Linked DNA regions of Homo sapiens: region 2 is linked to region 1. The links come from fine-mapping of genetic effects on gene expression. Tissue or cell type: whole blood. Region 1 holds a variant in brackets; the other region holds the start of a gene. All regions are shown on one strand. Distances are from middle to middle.

Evidence for each region. PIP is the estimated chance that this variant, and not a neighbour inherited with it, causes the effect.
Region 2: CLEC16A starts here. The variant in region 1 is fine-mapped to the expression of CLEC16A in whole blood (INTERVAL, PIP 0.90).

Annotation. Positions count from the first base shown.
Region 1 is chr16:11,031,396-11,036,945 of GRCh38, reverse strand. All of the region lies in intron 13 of CLEC16A (C-type lectin domain containing 16A), which reads right to left. Among named protein-coding and RNA genes, the nearest start is that of CLEC16A, 90 kb to the right of the region's middle. The variant G/A (reference allele first, on the strand shown) is at 3,053.
Region 2 is chr16:10,942,341-10,947,587 of GRCh38, reverse strand. It overlaps CLEC16A (C-type lectin domain containing 16A), which reads right to left and starts at 3,024. Exons shown (of 24, transcript NM_015226.3): 1 at 2,791-3,024. The coding sequence starts at 2,870. It overlaps DEXI (Dexi homolog), which reads left to right and starts at 5,120. Exons shown (of 2, transcript NM_014015.4): 1 at 5,120-5,247. It also overlaps a transcript of CIITA not described here. RefSeq lists enhancers at 2,952-3,011, 3,232-3,411 and a silencer at 4,981-5,247.

The DNA.
Region 1 (5,550 bases):
TTTTAGTTTGAGCACTGCTTAATGCATGGATGAGAATTTTTAGTTTGAGCATGACTTCATGTGTTTCCTTATCATTCGTGTTATAAAAGGAAAGTTAGGCCGGGCACGGTGGCTCATGTTTTTAATACCAGCACTTTGGGAGGCCAAGGTGGGCAGATCGCCTGAGGTCAGGAGTTTGAGATCAGCCTGGCCAATGTGGTGAAACCCCGTCTCTACTAAAAATACAAAAATTAGCTGGGTGTAGTGCACATGCCTGTAGTACCAGCTACTTGAGAGGCTCAGAAATGAGAATTGCTTGAACCCAGGAGGCGGAGGTTGCAGTGGGCTGAGACTGCGCCACTGCAGTCCAGCCTGGGTGACAGAGCGAGACTCTTGTCTCAAAAAAAAAAAAAAAAAAAAAAGGAAAATTAGAACAAAAGAACACAAGGATAAAACCTAACAAGAGCTAAATCAAGCTACAGACAGCCCAAAAGAGGCATGCTGAGCTGCTGGGGGCCCCTCTCAGGGGGCGAGCTGCTCAGGTTGGATCCTAAAGGATGAACAGGAGTTTGCCTTGAACTGGACAGGGAGGGCCAGGACTTGCCAAACCAAGGTGGGACTGCAGGGAGTGGAGCAGACCCAGAGAGGTCTGGGTGGGAGAGAGCCGGGGAGGGGGTGATGAGGTGGAGGATGGGGGAAGGGACAGGCAAGGCTTCGTGCCAGGATCCTGGAGGGTGATGCAGTGGAGGGGCCCAGGAGAGGCAGCTAGCGGGCCGTAACATAATCTGGTTGTGCCCTGGCTGACTGGGGTGGTTCCATTCCCCTGACTGTTCCAAGTGGTCTCCATGCTTCCGGCCCTTTACCCCAAACTGACCTGCTAGTGCCATGCAGTCCATGTGAGGTAGATTTTACCACCAGCCCTGGGAGGCAGAGAGCAGAGGTGATTCCACACAGCACACGGCAAAACTATATAACAGAAACCCCTCTGAACATCTCCCTTCTTTCCCCAAAGCTCCTTCTGGGCCAGGGGCCCCATTCTCTCTCCCAGCTCTTTTTCCCACCATGGCCTTTAAAATCCTCTCTTTGACTCCAACTATCCAGTGTTTTGAAGGAGGCCTTATCATTTACCAAAATACTCAGTCAAAACAAACAAACAACAACAAAATCACCAGTCTCTCTGGGGAAGGACAGAGTGTCTTTGGAAGGAAGGAGGAGAGGATTCTGCTAAGATGACAAGATTGCCTTCGCATGGTAAGCTCTGAAGAAATGGTGACCATCAGCCAGGCATATGACGTAGAATGCTTCATTTCATCCTCATGACATTCCATGAAGTGGCTAATAGTATTTCCATTTTATAGACGAGGAAGCTGAGGCTCAAAAAAGACATGAGCTTGCCTGGGGTCATGTGGAGAGTGGAAAGCCCAGCCCTGAATGCAGCCATGTGGCTCTTACCTCCCTCCTCTCTGCCGTGTACCATGATCCCCGCTGGTTAACGCTCTTTCCCTCCACCTTCCCAAGCTATGTATGTCATGTGATCTAGTGGTGTTCTTGGCACAAACACAACAGTCCATACATTTTTGCTGAATTAATTTTTTAAAAAGTTAAGTAGTTTTGATCAAATTTCGGGCAGAAGATTAGACAAATCTCAAAATGAAGGGGAAACATACGTAAAATAGAAGCCACCATATGACAGCTGTGCAAAAAAGCCCAACCATCACCCACACAGAAAACATGCTAGAAAGAAATACGACACTGTCAGCAGTTGGTTATTTTAAGGTGGTACTATCAAAGGCAAGTGAAAAAGCAACTTATTCTCATTTTTGTTTTCTATAACAATCATTGCATGACCATCACTGTACTTAGGATGGCATTTAATTTGTGGCGAACATTAGATTTAGGTTTAAGCCTCCTGCCTGAAACAACCTGGTGGCTGATGGTTCTGAGTGGCTAAGGTCAATGTCACCCTGTAACAGGGGCATGCATGTGAAAGGTAAGACGGCTCCTGTGTGCAAGGACATACACACAAACACACACACACACTCATACACACACAGACACTCATTCACACACGCATGCATACCCCGTGGTTTTTGGTCACAGAAAGGCAGGTTTTGCTGCAAACCCAATAGCTTCTTTGCCAGTCATTTCCCTCTGACAGAAATAAACACTGTGGATAATATATTATCCTATTTGCTTCAACTCTTAAGTGCTTTGTGACAGACAAATTCCAAAGAAACCCTGCTGCACTTCACGGGAGCACTAGCTCATTCTGGCTTCCAGCAGACCACATGTTCCCTGCCCCGCCCACAGCCCTGCCTTAGGGGTCAGAGCCTGAGCTGCCCACCGACTCAGAACGGGTGTCCCCTGTCCACCCGTGGACAGGGGTGGAGGGCGGAACTCTCAACTAACTCATTCAAAGAATCCAAAACAGAAGGGAAGGGTGTGGCCCCACAGTGTCAGTAACTCTTACTAAGCTTCCCTCTCAGTTCTGATATCTGGATTCTTCCCCCTTAGTAGTAGCCCCCATTTAGGGTAGAGAGGTAAAAGACCCAGACCAAAGATGCATAAGAATAATTAGACAGATCTGGATAAAGACACCACGAGAACACCAGGTAAACAGTTCAAACTTTTTAAAAACGTCTGTTGACCACACAAAGTCTCCTTGGCTGCAGTCACACAAGTATTACCAGCTTTGGAAGACTATAGACCAAAGATTTCGAAAGCTAACCAGATGTTGGGCCGATTTCCAATGTACTTCTAATTCTGGTTATGTGTCAGCCAAGATCCAAACTGACGTTGTGCAAGTTCTCCGCATGGCAAAAGCTTCCCTTTAGCCTATTACCTTTCAACCTTTTCCATATCGCTCATCCATGTTCCATTAACTTCTCAGCAAAACAAAACACAAAACACAAAGAGCCCAAGACTCCTTCTTCCTGGGTAAACAATGACAAATGGAGTGGCAGGAGTAGAAGGTTGGTCACTGAACTGGGGAACCTTCAAGATACAAAAGCTGTAAAACTCACCCCCATCCCTCCACCTCTGGCCCAGGACTCAGCGGACTTGATAGAAGAGC[G/A]AAGGCTGCATTTTCTATTACAGAAACAAACCAGAATTCATTATGTGGCCCAACTGAATCACAACAAGCGCCTTCCGCCAACCGGTCAACCCTTTCCACTGTGGGATATTCATTTCGGTGCAGCATCTAATCTATTATGATTACTGGAAGGCCTGAGCTCACATTTGGTTTTTATGAACGTGGCTTTTATGTTAAAATTGACTATGAGGAAAAAATCTATGAGAAAGAGACCAGGTCACTTGGGACCTGATTTGGGGGGTAAGGATCTGGAAAAGTGAGGCTGAAGGTCAAGTGCAGCCTGATCAGCTGCTGCATAACCAAAAACCAATCACTCAACCAACCTCCACCAGCAAAGCCCCACCAAATGCAGACTCTGTGCTCACAGGCCAGGACTGAGCATAAACCAGGTGGCAGCTCCCCCACGAGGCAGCTTCCCCAGGCACCTGGGCCTCAGGGCACCGGACTTGAACTTTTCCGTTTCTTCTCCAAACCTACTCCAAGGCCCATGCTTGTTAGTTCTGGAAATGGCACTATTGGTCACACAGGGAAAGGAGTCAGGAACCTGAGCCTTACCCAGGCTCCTCCCTTCATGCCCCCTCCTTTCAAATCAACCAGAACCCCTCACCCCTAGCCTAGTGACTCTCCTTGTCTCCTCATCCTAGTAAATGCACCCCCACCATTGCTCAAGCCAAATCACAGGAGTCATCTGACTCGTCCCTTTCACTCGACCCCTACATTCAATCCATCAGCACGTCCTGGCTCTAGCGCTGAAATAATCACAAGTCCTTCCAGTTTCCTCTACTCCCCAGCCAGCAGCCTAATCCAATCCACATTATCTCGCCTGGATGACTGCAACAGCTTCTTAGCAAGTCTCTCGGTGTTCCCTCCTGCAACTCATCCCCACCCCCAGTCATCTACTTTCTGTCTGGTAGCCAACGTTTCTTTTAAAAACTTCCATCTGACCACATCACTGTCCTACTTAAAAATTCGGTAGGGGTTTCCCATTGCACTTGGAGAAAAAATGGCAATTCCTCTTCAGGGCCTTCAAGGCCCTTCATGACCTGGCCCCTGCCCGCCTGGCCAGCCTCACCTTGGCCCACTTTCTGCTCCTTCCCACCCCGGGGCCTCTGTACATGCTGCTCCCTTCACCTGGAGGACTCTTGCCCCAGGTCTTTGCAGAGCTGGCTCCTTCTCACTCTCTGGGCTGTGGCTCTGCTGGTCCTTCCTCAGAGGAGCCCTCCCCGACCACCCTGACTAGCACCTAGTAACCCCTGCAGCACAACCACTAGGCTTCCTCATCACTCCACCCTGTTCATTTCCTTCTACCATTTGTCACAGTCACAATTAATCTTCTTGTTCACTTCAGTGAGACTCATCTGGGCTTGTTTGAGTGCCTATGACGGGGCCTTGCCCTGGCAAGCGCTCAGCAAGTATCTGCTGAATGATAAGAAAGCCTCTCAGTTTCACCTCTCATCCCTCCCACCCGCTGGCTGAATTACTGCAAACCCATTCTGAGAGGTGCAGAGTGGGTCAGCTCACTAACTGACCAACTGCCCCCCAGCAGCCCCACACGGCTCATAGGAACACAGTTCAGTCGCTGCCTGTGCCACCCCCTGCAGACTGGCTCCAGATGCCTGCCTCTTGGGGCACCCGCTGCCTCGGACATGCTGCCACTCACCCTAGGGAACGGGCAGTGATCTGATGGATATGCCACAGGCTCTCATGCCCCTTCTTGCTCTGTCCTCTACCATAGCCCGGGTGTCCTCAGGAAACGGGTCCTCACTCCTGCGGGCAGAGTCCATGCTCACCACCAGGCAAGTGACCCTCTATTGTGCTGACAGCCTCCTCGTAGGACTTTTCTGTCCAAGAATGACTGATGCTTTCTTGGGCAAGGGCCTGGGTTGGTCTGCCTGGAGTTTGTAGTCCCCATGTTGAGCACACTGCCTGGCACACGGCCGGTGCTCCACATGCATTTGCTGAATAACTAATTACATGAGGAAATTCATCAGAAACTGCAAGCTATTCCTCCTGATCACTTAAGCCTCCAAGAGGCCTCTCCTGATTGCTCAGGCGGATGTAGTACCCTCTACCCTCAGCCTGCCCCACCGCATTACCTAGTTTTATTTTCACTGTTGCACTTCTCGCTACATGGGATTATTTTACTTGGTTACTAGTTTACTGTCTGTCTCCTCTAAGAGAATCCAGATTCCATGAAAGCATTTGTTTGCTTCACCACTGCATCCCCAATACTGATCCCAGTGCCTGGCATCTAACAGGGGCTTCCAAAATATTTGTTGGAAGAATGAATGAATCAATACATGCATAGCATTAGCAGAAAATGGGAGAAGGAATTCAATTTCCTTGAATATACAGTTCTACTCTTCCAAGAAGAAATTCCCAAGAAAAAGAGGTAGGATGCCCAGGCGGGAACACAGGTGAGTGGTCTCTCCAGCGCATAAGATGGATGAAGGTGCATGGCAGCACACCCAGTAAGCCAT
Region 2 (5,247 bases), 89 kb after region 1:
TCAGCCCCCACCTGGACATGCCACAAAACCCGCAGGGTCCTGGTCACAGTGCTCCGCCTCCCGCCCCTGCTGCCCGCCAATGGTGGCTTCTGTTCATTCTTGGAGAACCCGCGCTGGTGTTGTCTCCTCCAGAAAGCTCCCAATAAGGGTTCCCACAGAACCCTGGGTCCATGGCGATCTCAGCACTTATCACACTGTACAGTCACTGGCTCTACAGCTGTCTCCCCCACCAGCCTGCAAACTCCCTCAGGGAACGAGCTGTTCTGTACCCAAGACCCAAGATGTTTACCAACAGAGCCAAATGCAGAGTGGCACAAGCCCCAGGGTGGGCACTGGCTGTTTACAAAACTCTTTTCCAAGTCACTGGGGGATCTTCTAACCCCCCCACCAATACACAAATCTCAGGTTCTTGGGGCTGTAATATGGATTAAGCTGATCTGCCTGATTCAGGGCAGGCAACTTGGGTTTCCAAAGAAGCATCCGATAGACATGTGATCTAAACAATGAACCCAGGCAGTTCCCAGGATACTGCAAAGGAACCAGAGACCGTTTACCATTCCCTGCTGGCTGGCAAAGATGCCCCATTGGCGATGAGACTCAGCCAAGTCAAAAGTGTTCTCAAACAGACTTATTGGGAAGTTTTATTCAGAAAGACAGTATAATGAGCACAAGCTCGGGAGTCAAATCCTGCCTCTGGTACCCTTCAGCTGCTGACACCTGGGGGCAAGTCACTGAAGCCCCCTGAACCTTAGTTTCCACTTCCGTAAAATGGAAACAATAATGGTTCCTGTAACTCAGACTTGTGAGGACTAAGGGAATTAACACACAGGCAGTCCTTAGCAAATACCTGGTACAGAATAATGCATTCGATAAATTAATAAATTAAGGTAATTTAAAAGGGCTAGAGTTAAGCAGAGTTAGGTGAGAACCTGGAGGTACCTGGATGCCGGCAGGAGGCCCAACCTCCTCTGGATAACTCCCCTCCCCTCCTCAGCCACCTCCGCCCACTCGATAAATTCCTGAAATCCTTCAACCACTCCCTTTCCCGGCCAGCTGCCCTCCCATCTAAGATCCCCACCTCCCTACCCACCCCAGACTTGTCCTGGGCCTCTTTCCTCCCCTTGTCTTCTCTCACCACCTCCTGCTCTAAAAGTGCCCCTCACCACATAGTGAACCCTCCTGCTCCCCACTCTTCAAGACTCACAAACGTTTACTAAATGCTGCTCCATGCTAGAAAGGTCACAGCTGAGAACTGTGGCCCTGCCACTACCCCTACCCCACTCCCGGGGACACATGAGAAGTCCCTATCTAATTCCCTCCCACCAATCCTTTCCACAGCCCCGTCTCCCTTCCACTACTTCCCACCATATCCCTAACCCTATCTTCCTCCTTTCCCATTAGTAGTCTCAGGATCTCCTTCTGGAAACCTGCCTATTTCTTGACACTGAAGATTTGTCTACTCCCCTCTTCAGCATCCCCGCCATTTCCCTCCCTAAAGCCTTTCCCTTCATACAGATCTCTATTTTTCATCATCCTCCACACCTGCCCCCAAATCCTGGGTCCTGGCCTGCATGCTCTTCATCTCTCCCCAATTCAATCATTCATTTTTCCACTCTTTAAGTAAGCAGAGAGCAGTCCTAGATGCTGGGAATACAACTGTGAACAAACCAAGCAGTCTGTGCCCTCGTGAAGTGCCAGTTTAACAGAAGACAGAAAATAAGTATAAATAAAAAATAAAGAATAATCGCAGAGAGTGGAGAAGCACTCAATGAAAGCAAGAGAAAGATGTGATGGATAGGAACTGGGATGGGGGGAGCACGTTAGGTAGGGTGGTCTGGGAAGGCCTCGCTGAGCTGATAATAAACACAGCTACCACTACTGGCCACCTACTATGTACCTACTGGGTCAGTCACCTTCCATTTCCATTACAATGTTCACGATCCCCATTTGCAAATGGGAATCTGGAGGCTCAGAGAGGTGAAGTAATTTGCCCAAGGTCACACAGCCAGTAAATGGTGGTTTCAGGATTTGAACGCAGGTGTGGCTGCAAAGCCAGCCTCTTAATTTCTGCACTCCTGGTCCCAAGACCCTATCTGCCACCTGTCCTCCCCCAGAGCTGTAGAGTCATTCCCTCCTCAGAGGTCTCTATTTTTCATCATCCTCCCCAATCGCCCCAAAATCCTGGGTCTCAGCGTGCATGCCCCCAGCTTAGACTCCCCTCGGAAAATAATCTGTTCTTTTATAATAATTAATGCCGTTTAATGAGCAATTGTACGTGTTCTGAGCTTAACGTTCATTCTCTTATCCAACCAACTCTCAACACAATAGCAGGAAGCAGGTGCTGTCACTCTACTCTTTTTACAAGTGGGGAACCTGAGGCCTACATTCACACAGATAGATTCGGACCCAGATCTGCCCGACTCCAGGACCCAGGCCTTTGACCCTCTAAGCTGTTCAGTTTAAGAAGTACCCCGCCAGGAAACTTGGTGGACACCGTCAAGAACAAAGTCTGTGTCCATAAACTGAAATCGCATCCTCTCGCTTTACAGGTGGGGATACGGAGACTCTGAGAAATTAAGCGACTTGTCCAAGGTCACACAGCCAAGAGCGACGGGGTCAGGGTTCGAACCCAGGCGCCCTGACTCCCGAGCCCTCGCTCTTAACCACCACACGGGCTTCCCCGGGCGCCCTTCGCCGCCGCTCTCACGCCTCCTAGAGCCCCGACCCGGAGCTCGGCGCCCCGTCCCCCTGTCCAGCCCCGAGGCCTCCCGCTACGCCCCCCACACTCACTTGAGGTGGTCCAAGGAGTGGATGTTGCGGGAAGTCTTGCCATGGCCCCCGCCCACCCAGCTCCGCGAGCGGCCAAACATGTCGGCGGCCCCGACCCGTCTCTCGTCTCACGGTCTCATGCCGGACCAGCAGAGCGGCCCAGCGCCCGCGGCGGTAGCACAAGCGGAGGATGCGGCGGCGGAGGCGGTGGAGGAACCGCGAGCCGCCTTCCTCCCCGGCCCACAGCCCAGCACTGACATTCAGCCGGAACCGGCCGTTCGACCGCCGCGCTTTACGGCCGCCGCCGCGTGGGGCGCTGGGAAATGCAGTTCACCCGCGTGGCCTTCGGCGGCAGGACTCCGCGAACGGACTACAAGGCCCGGCATGCATCGTGCAACCGCGGGCCTACGGCCATCCACAAAAGGCGGGGCGAGAGGAGGAGCGACCGCAGAATCCTCCGGGTGGGCGGGAATTGGAAGCTTTGGGCGCAGTCCCGGAGAGGGAATCGGCGTAGATGGGTCAAGGAAAGTCACCACTGTAGTAACAATTACTAGATTTATAATAAGAATAAGAATAGTATTGGATGGTGTATACTATGCAAAGCCACTATCCTAAGGGCTTTACATATTAAGGTATTTAATTTTCACAACCATCCTATGAATTGGGTACTATTATCGAACCTATTTTATCATCAGGGAAACGGAGTCACTGAGAGGTTGACTTACCCAAGATCATGCAGTTAACAAGTGGCAAAACCAGGGTTCATAACCACGCACGCACCCTTATTTTTCATTCCCTTTATAAACCAAAACGGCACTAGATAACAACCTTATTTGTCCTGACAGCCTTTTTCTTTTTCCACTTCAATTAAGTGTGTGTGTGTGTGTGTGTGTGTGTGTGTGTGTGTGTGTGTGTGTGTGTGTGTGTTGGAAAAGGCTGGATGCAACAATGCACCAAACTGAACATTTTGTACTTCCAGAGGATTCCTCTGGTCTTCAGCCAGAATCCATGCTATTTCCCAAAGTACCACGTTAAAATGAAAAAGGAAACACCCAACTTTCTGCATGAGCCAGAATATATCTAACTTCTACCCTGGATTAGAAGTGGTAAGTTCAGTGTGGGCAAGACTTCTCAAGTTTACCATCCATTCATTCATTCAGTCACTTCTACATATCAACCTTATTAAAGGTCCACTGTGTCCCATTAACTCTGCTCAAGAAAGAACTGGGCCAGAGGCCAATGTTCTCCCCAGTGCCTAGCACAAGGTTTGGCACATAGCAGGTGTTTAACAAATATTGGTAGAGTGCATGAATGAGTAAAGGTTTGTTTCACCTTCAGCAGTTGGAGAAATGGATAAGAGTGGAGAGTTAATGGTTTGTCCTGTAATTCATATAGAGTGGGGCAAGACAAAGTCATGGAGCAAAAAAGAACAGGATCTGGCCTCCAAAGAAACACACCCAGGCTCAGAAATGTAGGATCCCTGGGCTCGTATTTTTCATCTGTAAAAAGTACGCACATACATACTACACTGCCTTGTATACCTCCGATTAAGCGATGCATGTAAAATACTCAGCTCAGTGTGGCCTGAGATTTAAAGGTTTCTTGAACTGCTTTGGAAGGCTCTTTGGGCGAGATCATGTTTTCCTGAAAGACATGCAACGGTTACCCAAGAGCAGGGGAACCAGTGGGTGGGAGAGACTCACTTTTCTGTGTACTTCACGGTTGTTTGAATGTTTAGCCATGTGTATTATTGCTTTTAAACATGATTCACAAAGTAAAAAGAAACAAAAAGCATCCTTATGGTTGAAGATCTGAACTACCTCGGAATCTCTTTATTCAGGTGTTCCTTAACTCTAGGATGCAGGTTCCGTAGTGGGCGGACCTTCCAGCAACCAGAGTTTGGAGAAGCGAAGGGGACACTGGTGGATCTCCACCATGAAAATTGGCGCTTTGGGAATGTCCAAAATTTCCAGGGCAACCGTCCGTCGCCCCTCCCCGACCCCGCCTCCTTTTAAAGGAGAAACGGAGTCCCAAAGAGGCATGCAGCAAGGTGCAGCGGTAGCCCGGGTTTCCTTCGGCTTTTGCGGCCTTAGCATTATGTCTAGGTTTGAACTGTGTTCAGTCTCTTTTACCTCCCCCTATTCGATACGCAGAGCGAATTCGATTTGAGATCTGAGGGCAGACCCGAACCAGGAAAGCAACTCAGACGCTAGGGCCCCGAGGGGCGGAGCGAAGCGGTACCCGCCCCCTGGCGGCCGGAGCCAATCAGCGCGGGCGTTGAGCCGGCCAATTAGCGCGTGCAGGGGGCGGCCTGCCAATGAGCTCGGGGCCCCTCGGGAGGCGGAGCTCCGAGCGCCACCGGGAGGGCTACGCGGCGGCCGCAGCCATGGGTGCTGGGCCTGCGGGGGCGCGGGGGGTGCGCGAGGACCTGCGGGGCGGGGCGGGAGAGAAGGCTGCCGGGACCGGCCCTAGACACTG